2 separate regions of the Homo sapiens genome follow, and region 2 is linked to region 1. Evidence: fine-mapped expression QTL. A gene starts in region 1. The other region holds a variant in brackets. All regions are shown on one strand. Distances are between the middles of the regions. Region 1 holds the start of CTBP1-DT (CTBP1 divergent transcript). Region 2 holds the start of NKX1-1 (NK1 homeobox 1).

The links. PIP is the estimated chance that this variant, and not a neighbour inherited with it, causes the effect. A credible set is the group of variants that fine-mapping cannot tell apart.
Region 2: its variant is the best candidate, but not a certain one, in a credible set for the expression of CTBP1-DT in whole blood (INTERVAL, PIP 0.70).

What each region holds. Positions count from the first base shown.
Region 1 is chr4:1,246,891-1,252,243 of GRCh38, reverse strand. CTBP1-DT (CTBP1 divergent transcript) reads right to left here and starts at 2,804. Exons shown (of 2, transcript NR_033339.1): 1 at 2,772-2,804; 2 at 1-2,133. CTBP1 (C-terminal binding protein 1) reads left to right here and starts at 3,114. Exons shown (of 10, transcript NM_001012614.2): 1 at 3,114-3,328. RefSeq lists enhancers at 1,836-1,925, 1,986-2,035 and silencers at 2,406-3,335, 3,506-4,225.
Region 2 is chr4:1,401,333-1,406,685 of GRCh38, reverse strand. It overlaps NKX1-1 (NK1 homeobox 1), which reads left to right and starts at 244. Exons shown (of 2, transcript NM_001290079.1): 1 at 244-706; 2 at 2,871-3,754. The coding sequence starts at 244. The coding sequence ends at 3,754. RefSeq lists an enhancer at 293-883 and a silencer at 3,171-3,465. The variant G/T (reference allele first, on the strand shown) is at 2,239.

The sequences.
Region 1 (5,353 bases):
CCAGCTACTCGGGAGGCTGAGACAGGAGAATTGCTTGAATCCGGGTGGCAGAGATTGCAGTGAGCTGAAATTGCACCATTGCACTCCAGCCTGGGCAACAAGAGCGAAACTCTGTCTCAAAAAATAAAAATAAAAATGACTGGTTTTTTTTTCTGTGTGTACATGACTGACAAGACCAGTGGTTTCCTTTAATACCTCATCGACGTTCCCAGGCACTTTTTGTATTTGAGGTGTGTGAAGTAATAGGTTGGCCCTTGTCTTGAGCGTGATACTGAACACACCGACTAATAAAATGGGGGCCTTTGGCTGCACACCAGGCGCTCTGGGTACTGATGAGCTCGCCCCCAACTCCATGCCAGGAATCAGAACGGTTGCCCGGGAGAGTCGGCAGAAAGAGGAGGAACCGGATGCAGTGATCTACCTGGTTTGTCCTGGTGTCCAGTAACTTGGAGTTCTTCTTTCACACGTGGCTGGCACAGAGGAGACACTCATAAATACCCGAGTTGAATAAAATAGTCCATTGACATGGAGTCGCATGAAGCAGCATTCGTCCATCCAAAACGCCGATGCTTCTTTAGAGTGGACTGAGTTTTCCCCCAATACTAGGTTGTCCCACGCGATGGACAAAAATAGCCCATGTGGCAACGGAGGCTGGCCGGGGGGACCTAATGCCCATGCCTCTGGCATTCCCACCAAGGTGACTGTCCAGTAGCTCCCAGGACAGCCCATCCGTGTAGGGCAAACGCCATGAGCCACTCCTGTGTGCAGGCACAGGGCAGGCCCAGGCACAGGGAGGCGGGTGGGCAGGCACACAAACAGCCAAACGCTGACCCTGGAGGGCGGTGGTCATCTGCTCATCACAGGGGAAAGACTGGAGGTGGGAGAGGCAGGTGCCACCCGCAGGAGTTGGGACGAGCTGTGCACACGGCTGGGCACACGCAAAGCTGAGCCTTCTTCGTGAGCAACACGGTCACATTTGGGTGTAGGAATCTTGGCTGGAGTTGCCCAACGTGGGGAGCAGACAGCTCTGCAGCCAGGACCCCAGTTGGAGAAGGCAGCGCTTGGAACAAGCCAGGACAGTGGACAGACGGGCCGGTGCCAAATAGAAGTCATGATAACGCGCTGACAAGCTGTGCAGACGAACACTGTGTGTAGACGGAGGCCATGGAGAGTGACGATGGGGAAGACGCTGGATCCCTGGCTGGCCTGCATCCCTCTCCGTTCTCAGTTGCCTGTGGAATTCCGGGGAGCTCTGCTCCAGCTACACTGCACATAAAAGTGCGCAGGAAGTGGATCCTGGAGAGGAACTGTTCTTCTGGACTGAGCTTGCTGCTCATGGCAGCCCCACCTGCAGGACCCAAAGCCTTATGTGATGTTTGCTGGACACTCAGCCACGTGGCTGCCTGTTGAGCTCTGCAAGTCCACGCGGGAGCCAGGAATTCCTCCCCAGAAGTCTCTCCATTATATTCACCACCCCCTAGTAAATCACAACCTGACTTGCTGCAGAGGATGGAGTGCCTGGGACTCGTCTGACCCCAGCTCCCCTGGGGAAGTGGGGGTGGTACGTCCCTGCACCCGGCCACGTGCTGCCTTCTCCTGGGCTGCCTGTCCATGCTGAGCAGACAGGAAAGTCCAGTGAGGTCCCTGCCTGTGCACTCCACCAACCACATCGTCCCTTCCCGGCAGCCTCACCTAGGCCCCTCCAGCTACGACCCCTTGTCCCCTGCACCGATGCCTGGCCTTGGAGGTTGCTGCTCATTTTTCTGGAATTTTTTCTTAGATCTCTGCAGGGCTGCCCCTCCCCCTACAAGGGCTCCACACGTGTTCCCTCCTTCATGACTCCCACTGGGCTTCCCCGACAGGGCCTCACCCTCCCCAAAGCTCTGGTGACACCTGCCAGGTTTCCTCCAGGCCACAGCTCGGCAGCCCGATCTTAGAACAGAACGTGGCACGCAGGGCAGGTCTGGCTGAGGGCCCAGCATTGTCAGCGGGGTTGGAGGTCTTCCCGGGCCTCGAAGGGGAGACGTAGGCTTCTCAGGGCAGCCCAGGACGCGTCCTCACGAACCACAGCGAAATTACAGCAGGTATCTCGCGGATAGGAGTCTGCATCATTCCGTCTCCATGCCGTGGTTTCTGAAATTATGCAACTATCTCGGCATTCCAGAGGGCTCAGAGTAGCCACGCGCAGAGGCCCTCCCCATGGGGTGGATGGAAGCGTCCACTCGCGGCGCGAGGAATATCCCTGGGCCCCTCGGGAGAGTCTGCAGGGGCAGCCCCTGGGTGAGCAGGCCCAGTGCGGCCTCTCCCTGAAGGGACTTTCGGGCCCTCCCGGGTCGGGGCTTCACCGGTAGCAGGCAGGGCTTTGATATTAATGCTTAAAGGGAAAGCAGAGCTGAGCTGTCAGGACGTTGGTTAGCTACAAACCCTACTCTTGTTAAAAGAGAAATGGGGTCGGGGAAGGGGTTCTCCAGCCCTGAACTTCCCGGGCCGGGCAGGACGCGGTCCCTCCAGGAGTCGGGGCTCCCCCGCCTGGGGACGCACTGGGGCAGGCGCGCTTCTCCTCTCGGGGTCCCATGTGCCGCCGGCTCTCGGACGGTAAATCAGGGCTCGGGTGGGGGCGATGGGGGGCCCGCGGCCTCGGTGCCCCTGGCCAGCCTCGGAGGCGCACGGGCCAGGCCGCGGGGCGAGAAGCGAGCGCGGGAGGGCGGCAGCTGGCGGAGCGGGAAGGGAGCGGGGCGGCTGCGGCTGCGGCGCGGAGGAGCGCCATTTACGTTCGGGCCCGCGCCAGGCGCTGACGTGGGCGGCCCTGTCTCGGCTTCCGGGCCCGCAGGGTCCTCGGGGCGGACGGCGCTCCCGCCAGCGGCGCTGAGTCCGGCCCGACCCTGCCCGACTTCCTCGGGGACAGGCGGTTTAGAACGTGCGGAACACCAGGCCCGGGGCCTCCGCCGGGCTGCAGCCCCGCGAGCTTCCCGCCAGGCTCCCGCCCCGCCCCGCCCCGCAGCCGCGTCCCGGCCGGGCGGGCCCTGAGCCGCCCGCGTGAGTCCGTGCGCCGCCCGCGCTGGGAACCAGGAGACCAACCGCGAGGCCCCGCCCGCGCGCGCCGCCGTGTCCCCGCCCGCGCGGTCGTCGGAGCGCGGCTCAGCGGCGCGGCGGAGACTCGGCACGGCGGCGGCCAGGCGCAGGCGGGCGGGCGGAGCAGCGGACGGCGCCGAGGCCGCCCCACGCGCCGGGCTCGCGGCGGCGCAGCGCGCCGGAGTGGTCGGGGCCCGCGGCCGCTCGCGCCTCTCGATGGGCAGCTCGCACTTGCTCAACAAGGGCCTGCCGCTTGGTAAGGCCGCGCGCGCGCGCGTTTCCGGCCGCGGGCGGGGGCGGGGCGGGGCGGGTGCCGCGCGGGCGGGGGGCGCGGGGGCGGACCGAGCGCGCGCCCGCGGGCCGCCGGCTTTGTGTGCGAGTGCGCGTGCGCGCCGGCGTCCGCGCGTGGCCGCGGTCGGGGGCGGGACCGCGGGAAGGGTCTTGCGCATGCGCGGGCCGCTGCGTGTGCGCGAGCGCCGCAGTCTGCTCTCCCCGCCCGCGGCCCGTGCAGGTGACACAAAAGGGCCTGTGGGCCTCTGGGCTGCCCCGCCGGACCCCCAGCTCCACCGACCCCAGCCCCGTCGGACCCGGGACGGCACCCCGGGTCCCGATCCCCGGCCGCTACCCCGTCCCCGGTCATGACCCCGTGGCTGGGCCTGCGGGGCCGGGATGGGGCGGGAGCCGTGCGCAGCTCGGGGTGTCCTGGGGCGCGCGCTCCCGGGCCACTCGCGGGAGCGCGCCTCCCGCGGGGAGGCCGCCGGCGACCGTGGCCGCGCGCTGTGGGGGAAGGGGACGGGGCGCGGGTGCCGGGTATGACCGTGGAGGAGGCCGCTGCCCTCAGACCGGGCCCAAAGCGCAGCCCCCGGCGGTGACGCGGGAGGGCCCGGGGTCTCCGTTCCCGCGAACTCCGCGAGGTCCCGGACCGGCCCAGCGCCCCCACCTGCCCTTGCCTGGGCCCGCCCAGGTCCCGGGGCGCCTTCCTCGCGGGCTGCGGCCGCGGAAGCAGGGAGCACGGGCGGGCGCCGGGCTTGCCACCATCGCCATCTTGCAGCGCCCGCGTCCTGGGCCGGCCCGAGCCGCTGCGCGGAGCCTCTCTTTCCCTCGACCCGGCTGCAAAGGCAGAGTCCGTGCGCCTGAGCCCCGGGCCGAGACTGGAGCGTTCTCTGGCGGCCTCCAAGGGCGCCGGTGTCTGGAAGCCCGGCCTGGGCCAGATCCCTTTTGCTGTCGTCTCCGTGATTGCCGGGACAGAATTCCCTTCCAGTGGGGAAAAGGGAAGGCGGTCGCGCCCTTCCCGGTGCCCTGAGTGGGGAGGTGAAACCCTGAGAGTTGGGGCAAGAGGGCCTGGAGCTAGGGCCGAGGCGGCGGGTGCGCAGGGTGTTCCGTTGAGCCCGAGCCCCCCCCCCCTCCCCGGCCTCTCCACCGTTTCTGTAGGAGCGCGGCAGGGAGCACACGTCCCTCGGGAAGAAAACGGCGCTGGCGGCTGGGCCCGCACCGCGGCCGTCCTCGCTGAGCTCCTAGCGCGTGGCCTTTGCGCGTCTGTGTACCCGTCTGCAGCTTGGGGCAGGGTTGGGGGAGAACCGTGGGGTAACTATTTGCCGTTGCAGCTGAGGATGACAGCTGCGGTTTGGGGGTCCCCCTTTCTGTGTCCTGGAACTTTGTAGGGCGTGGCTCTGCCCTGGGCCTCAGCACCCGGCCTCCCAGGTCTCCCCTGCCTGCCCGGGCCTGGCCACCTCCCTCTGGGGTCTGGGTTTGGCTCCTGGTTGGGGCTGTCGGCTCCGCAGACGCCTTTTGCTCTCTGTGATTCTGTTGCCCATCTTTGAGCACCTGCTTCCATACAGGCGTCCTCTGCAGAGCTCTGGGAGGGACACGCACTGGGGGTGGCATCTGGTCACTCCTGGGGGTGCCTCGTCCGCCTGCCCGGCCATTTTTGGGGTGTCTGCCATGTCCCCAACATGCACTTCTTCCTGTCAGCCTTGACCAGGGCAGCTGTTAGTTCTGAGAGGTGGGCGTGTGGTTGGGGATGTCAGCGAGTAGGATCTTCCCTTTTACTCGCTTGTCATTAACCTGAGAACGTGGCAGTGGGGGAGGAGAGGCTTGGCCCGGGGTGCACAGGACTGTGGGCTGGTCCTGTCCCTCTGATGAGTGGGACGAGCCTTGGTCCAGTCCTGTGGGCTTGGCGCAGAGCCGGCCCCCTGCCATGTCCTGGTGGGATTGGAAGTGCTGGCTCGTCCTGTCTGCCTCCCCCAAGGGCTGGGAGCCCCCCACTCTTTGGACATTTGTA
Region 2 (5,353 bases), 150 kb before region 1:
GCACGTGTGTTCGGCGTGTGGGCGCGTGGGCGCCTCCGGCGGGGCTGCCATAAATGCGCGGACCGGGCGCCGCGGGCGCCTAAGGCGGCGGCGAAGGCAGCACCGGCCAAGCGCAGGGCGCGGCGCCGAGAGCGAGCGGAGCAGCGGCCGCCTGCGCGGGGTCGTGTGGAGGTGCGGGGGCCGCCAGGGATGGGAGCCCAGTAGGTGGCGGGGCCCGAGCCGCCGGAGCGGCGGGAGGCCGGCATGAGCGCTAGCGGCCCCGAGGCTCCTGGGGACATTCCCGCGCTACCGCCGCCTCCCCAGCCAGGTTCGGGGCCCGCACCGCCCGCTCCCGCCGCCGCTGCCCAGGAAGCTATGGACGGGCGCGCCGAGCTGCCGGCCTTTCCCCGCGCTGGAGCCCCGCCGCTCGCGGCCAGCGACACTGTGCCTGCGGCGCCCGAGGGGGCTGGAGCGGCCCGGCCCGCAGCGCCCCTGCGCCCCACCTCCTTCTCGGTACTGGACATCCTGGACCCCAACAAGTTCAACAGCAGGAGGCGTCGTTGCGTGCTGCTGGGCCCAGTGGCTCCCGCTGCGTGCGCCCCTTGCGCTTCGGCCCCATGCGCCCCTGCACCCGCCGCCTCGGGACGCCCGCCACGCGCGGAGGAGCTGGAGCGCCGCGCCCTCGCCGGCGCCGGGGGAGTCGGAGCCGCCGGAGCTGAGCCGCCGAGTGAGTAGGATGCGCCCGGCACCAGGTCGCAGGGACGGGGGACCGGAGGCTTCTATGCGTTTACGACCCTGGGACACCGTGGCGAGTTGGGTCTGGCCCACGCCGAGGCTCCGTGGAAAGTTCGCTGAGCGCCGGGTCCGCACCAGCCCACCCGTGGCCTCCATCCGACCCGGACTGCAGGGCCTGCATCGCCAGGCTCCTCTGGAGAAGCTTAGCCGGGTCAGGCCCAGGGGCTGCAGGGCTGTGAGGCCGGTCCAGGGTTCGCCTCCGCGCGTCTCCGGCCTAGAAGGGTAGTTGGTGCAGGAGGCGAGGGGCCGCTCGCGGTGGCTGGCCCGTGACCTCCCCGCCCCCACTGTGCCCGCCCGAGGCCTCCCTCCCTCCCTCCTTTCTCCCTCTCTCTCTTTTTTTTTGGACAAATCAGACTAATTGTGACAAAACGCTGGTTATCGCTGGAAAAACAATTAAATCCCTTCGATTACAGTTAAGGGGAAATGTGCTTAGCGGCGGAAAGCGGCCGGTAATGGGGCGGCCCGCGCCCCCGGTCGGGTCGATATCCCATTACGGCGCGTGCATATCTCTTTCAAGCACCTTGCAAACTCCCCCCGAACATCTAAATTATAGGGTCAAAATTCGGATAATTACTCGATTAAAACCTATTACACTTATTAGGGGCCGCTATTGATCGCGAATTGCATTCGACCTGCTCCTGATTGCTTTTTGTGTCCCCTCCTCCTCCCTCCAACTTTCCGGCCCTACTGAAGCACAGGGAGGACAGCGCGGGGCGGACCGGGCTGGGCCGCGGCCACCGGCTCTGCGCCTGGAGGCTGCGGGCCGCACCTGCGCGGGGCCTCTTCCGGGTCGGCCGAGATGGAGGGCGAACAAATCCGGCTGAGTGGAGGGGACCCTACGGACTCTGCGGCGGCTGCGCTCAGAGCCTCCACCTGCGGGGAGTCTATGGGGCGGAAGGCCGGGATCCCGCTGAAGCCGGGAAGGCGCGCGCATACTACAGCCGGGGAGTCATCTGGGCCAGGCACCCGGGGCAGGGCTGGGACGGCGCTCGCGGTCGTCTAGGGGCGGATCCTACTCCTGCTGAGGGTCGCGGGGACCCAGACCACCTGCTGGCCTCCATGCCAGGTGGCCAGTCGCCCTGGAGGAATCTGACAGGAGCGATTGGTCATTTCTTACCGGAGATTTCGGTTCCGACCTGGCCGGAGAGCAGGCCGCGGCTGCCGCTGGGCAGCTCTGTGGAGGGCACCTGCCCCGACTCCTCCTGACTTAGGCCCCCAGTGCCGGGGCATAGGCGACCCTGCCTGGGAGAGATGCTTTCTTCCAAATTTCAGAGACTCAAAATGCAGTCACTTCAGGGCCTCTGCTTGGAGGATGCGGAGCTGCTGTTCAGACTCGGCCGACCGGGCCTTTAGGCCGCGGGGAGCCACTCCGACCTGCACGCCCGCCCAGCCCTCCTGGTGAGGCCGAGCAGGGCCCTACCCGCGGCAACTCTGCGCAGGGGCCGAGGCGCGGGCAGGGGAGCC[G/T]GGGCTGACCCTCGCGACCGAAGCTCAGGGCCTGGAGGCTTGAGGTAGGGTCGGGGCCAGGGCATAGGATTTGGGTCCCCCAAGCCCCATTCTCTCGGCCGGCTCCGGCCCCACCGCCGGGCCTGTTATTAAATGCCCGGCAATTGGCTGGCCCTGCGCCGGCGGTAATTGGGGGGTAATATACGCCGAAATAAATTAAATGGCCTTAACTAGTTTGTACACTACACAAAATGAGTTTAATTAAGTGTGTATCAGCCCTGCGGATCGATCAGAGCTTCCACTCCGCTGTGATCTCCGCAGCCGGGCCCGGCCCGCAGCACCCGTCCAGCCCCGCTCAGGCAAAAACGCCCGGCGCCGCGAGAACGGGCAGCGCGGGGCGAGGGGGACCCTCTCCATAGAAAGAAACAAGCAAGGGACCGAGAGGAGACGCGGGCGGCGGGAGGGAAGGACAGGCCGAGGGGAGGGAAACGACAGAGCGAAGGAGAGAGAGAGGAGGCGGGTGACGAAGCAGGAGGCGCTGAGCAGGGGGCGGGAGGGAACCCTGGGGGAGGAAGCGGGGCGCGCGGAGGGCGGGATCTGGGAACCGGCCGGTCCTAACTGCCCTGCCCTGTCCTTGTCCCTCCCTCCCGCAGACGCCGGCGACCCCTTCAAGGCAGGGGAGGCCGAGACCAACGACACCAACGGCTACAGCAGCGGCGGCGGCGGCCACAGCCCGAGCGCGGACAGCGGGGACGAGGTTCCCGACGACGAGGACGACGACGAGGACGAAGCGCCCGAGACGGAGGCGGCGCGAGGCGCGGAGGAGGCGCGGGGAGGCGGCGGCGGCCTCGGGGCCCGCGGGTCGGGTTGCCAGGGCGCGGCTGAGACCGACGCGTCCCCCGGAGCCACCGTCGACGAGGCAGCGGCCCCCGGACCCCGCGAGAACTCGCCCGTTGCCCAGGGCCCACCGGGAGGTGCAGCGGCGCCGGGGGGCGCGGGGACCACCCCGCAGGGCACGGCGACGGCGGCGAAGCCCAAGCGGAAGCGCACGGGGTCCGACTCCAAGTCCGGGAAGCCGCGGCGAGCGCGCACCGCCTTCACCTACGAGCAGCTCGTGGCGCTGGAGAACAAGTTCAAGGCCACGCGCTACCTGTCGGTGTGCGAGCGCCTCAACCTGGCGCTGTCGCTCAGCCTCACCGAGACGCAGGTGAAGATCTGGTTCCAGAACCGCCGAACCAAGTGGAAGAAGCAGAACCCGGGCGCCGACACCAGCGCTCCGACCGGCGGCGGGGGCGGACCGGGACCGGGGGCCGGGCCTGGCACGGGGCTGCCCGGCGGCCTCAGCCCGCTCAGCCCCTCGCCGCCCATGGGCGCCCCGCTCGGCATGCACGGCCCGGCCGGGTACCCGGCGCACGGCCCCGGAGGCCTGGTGTGCGCCGCGCAGCTGCCGTTCCTGTCGAGCCCGGCGGTGCTCTCGCCCTTCGTGCTGGGCTCGCAGACCTACGGGGCGCCCGCCTTCTACGCGCCGCACCTCTGAGCCCCGTGCCGCTCCGCCTCCGAGGCCGCTGCCGGGCCCGGCTGTTTTCTACGATTCCAGTCGTTGACTCTGTACATAACCGGTTGCTACGGAAGAGTTTTAAATTTATAAATGACCATGCGCGTCGGGGCCGGGCAGGTGGCTCCCGCGGGCTCGGCCCGCTGCGAAGCACTTTGCGGAACTTCACTCAATCAATAAACCGCAGGCGGCCGCGCCCCCTTCTCCCAGGCTCCCGCGCCGCCCTCCGCCCGGCCGGGCCCACCCGTGAATCCTCTCCGGTGGGGACCAAGGCTCCTCGGGTGTTGGCCTTGAGCGGGACTCCAGCCCGTTTTCCCACCGGCCTGGCGTCCCCCGGCCGGAATTCAGGCCACTCTGCTGGTGCCTGCCCGTCGTCGTGGGCGCAGGGGCTGAGCGCAGGGGCTCACCCGCCAAGCTGGCTGAGGCTCAGGTCCCAGCGTCACCTCCCTGACCGCCCCCTCCCCGTCCCAAAAAAGATCACAGGTCTCGGAAAGTGACCAGCTGCTTCCTCTTCGCCTCTCCTCTTAGCCATGGAGCTGGTGGGGCCGCGGCATTTTCCGCCTCCTGCTCCCCACCCCTGCAGCCTGCTCCGGTCCCACTCCCCTGCCCCACAGCCCCGCAAGGGAGCACCGGGCTAGGCGTGTCAGCTTGGGGGCGGTGTCAGCTTCGGCTACTGCCTGGAGGAAGAAGCGCCTGCCTGTTTTCCCCGGGGAGAAGGGGCTGCCTGGGCTCAGCTACCTGCCCAAGAGCGTCCCAGCCCATTCAGACCCAGGCCCCCAAAAGTCGGGTCGAGTGCTCCCTCTTGGAGCTGCCACCTCTCCTCCAACGACGCTGGAAACAGTCCCTACATCCCCTCACAGGCTCTCGGAGTCCTGTGGGTTTGGTGTTCGCCTGAGCTGGGCTCAGGGAGGTGAGAGGCAGAGGCGCTTGGGCTGGGCGGCAGTGTGGATGCAAAAGCTGGTGCTTGGAAGCGGGGAAGGGCGACGGGAGGAGGGTTCAGAGCCCCAGAAAGGGTGGGGAGGCGGCATGAGACACTGGCCACAGCCGGGCAGGTGCTGCCCCTCTTCTGCCACTGGCGGGAGTCCTGAGTCCTGCCTCACAGAGGGAGCTTGGCTCTGCCTGGCGGCTGTGCCCTGACTGGGCCCAGTCTCCTGGTGTCCTGTCCATTTTCCGTGAGTGGGCTGAGCTCATCTCTGGGCTGTCAACCTGACAGCAACCACTGGGGGAGGGCTGGGGGCAGGTGGCGGCAGTGAATACCCAGTGCCACAGGCAAGATGGGAGACACTGCTGCCCACTGGCCTGGCCAGCACCTGTGGACAGAGAGCAGGCCCAGAGCAGCACCGGCCATCGGGCAGGTTGAGGGGGCGGGGCGCAGGGGCGGCTGGGATCACCCTGTGTGTTTGCTGCCCCCACACCCCAAGCCCCAGGCAGGCCTTGGTTCCTCCAGCCAAGGGCCGGCCTGACTCCCAGTTGCTCTCTGCTCCCTTTCTGGGTCCGCATAGGTGAAGTCACCTGCCTGCAGCAAGCGTCCTGAGGCTCACCAGCCCGGGGGCAGGGCAGCCTCTCCCTCCTCCCTCCTCC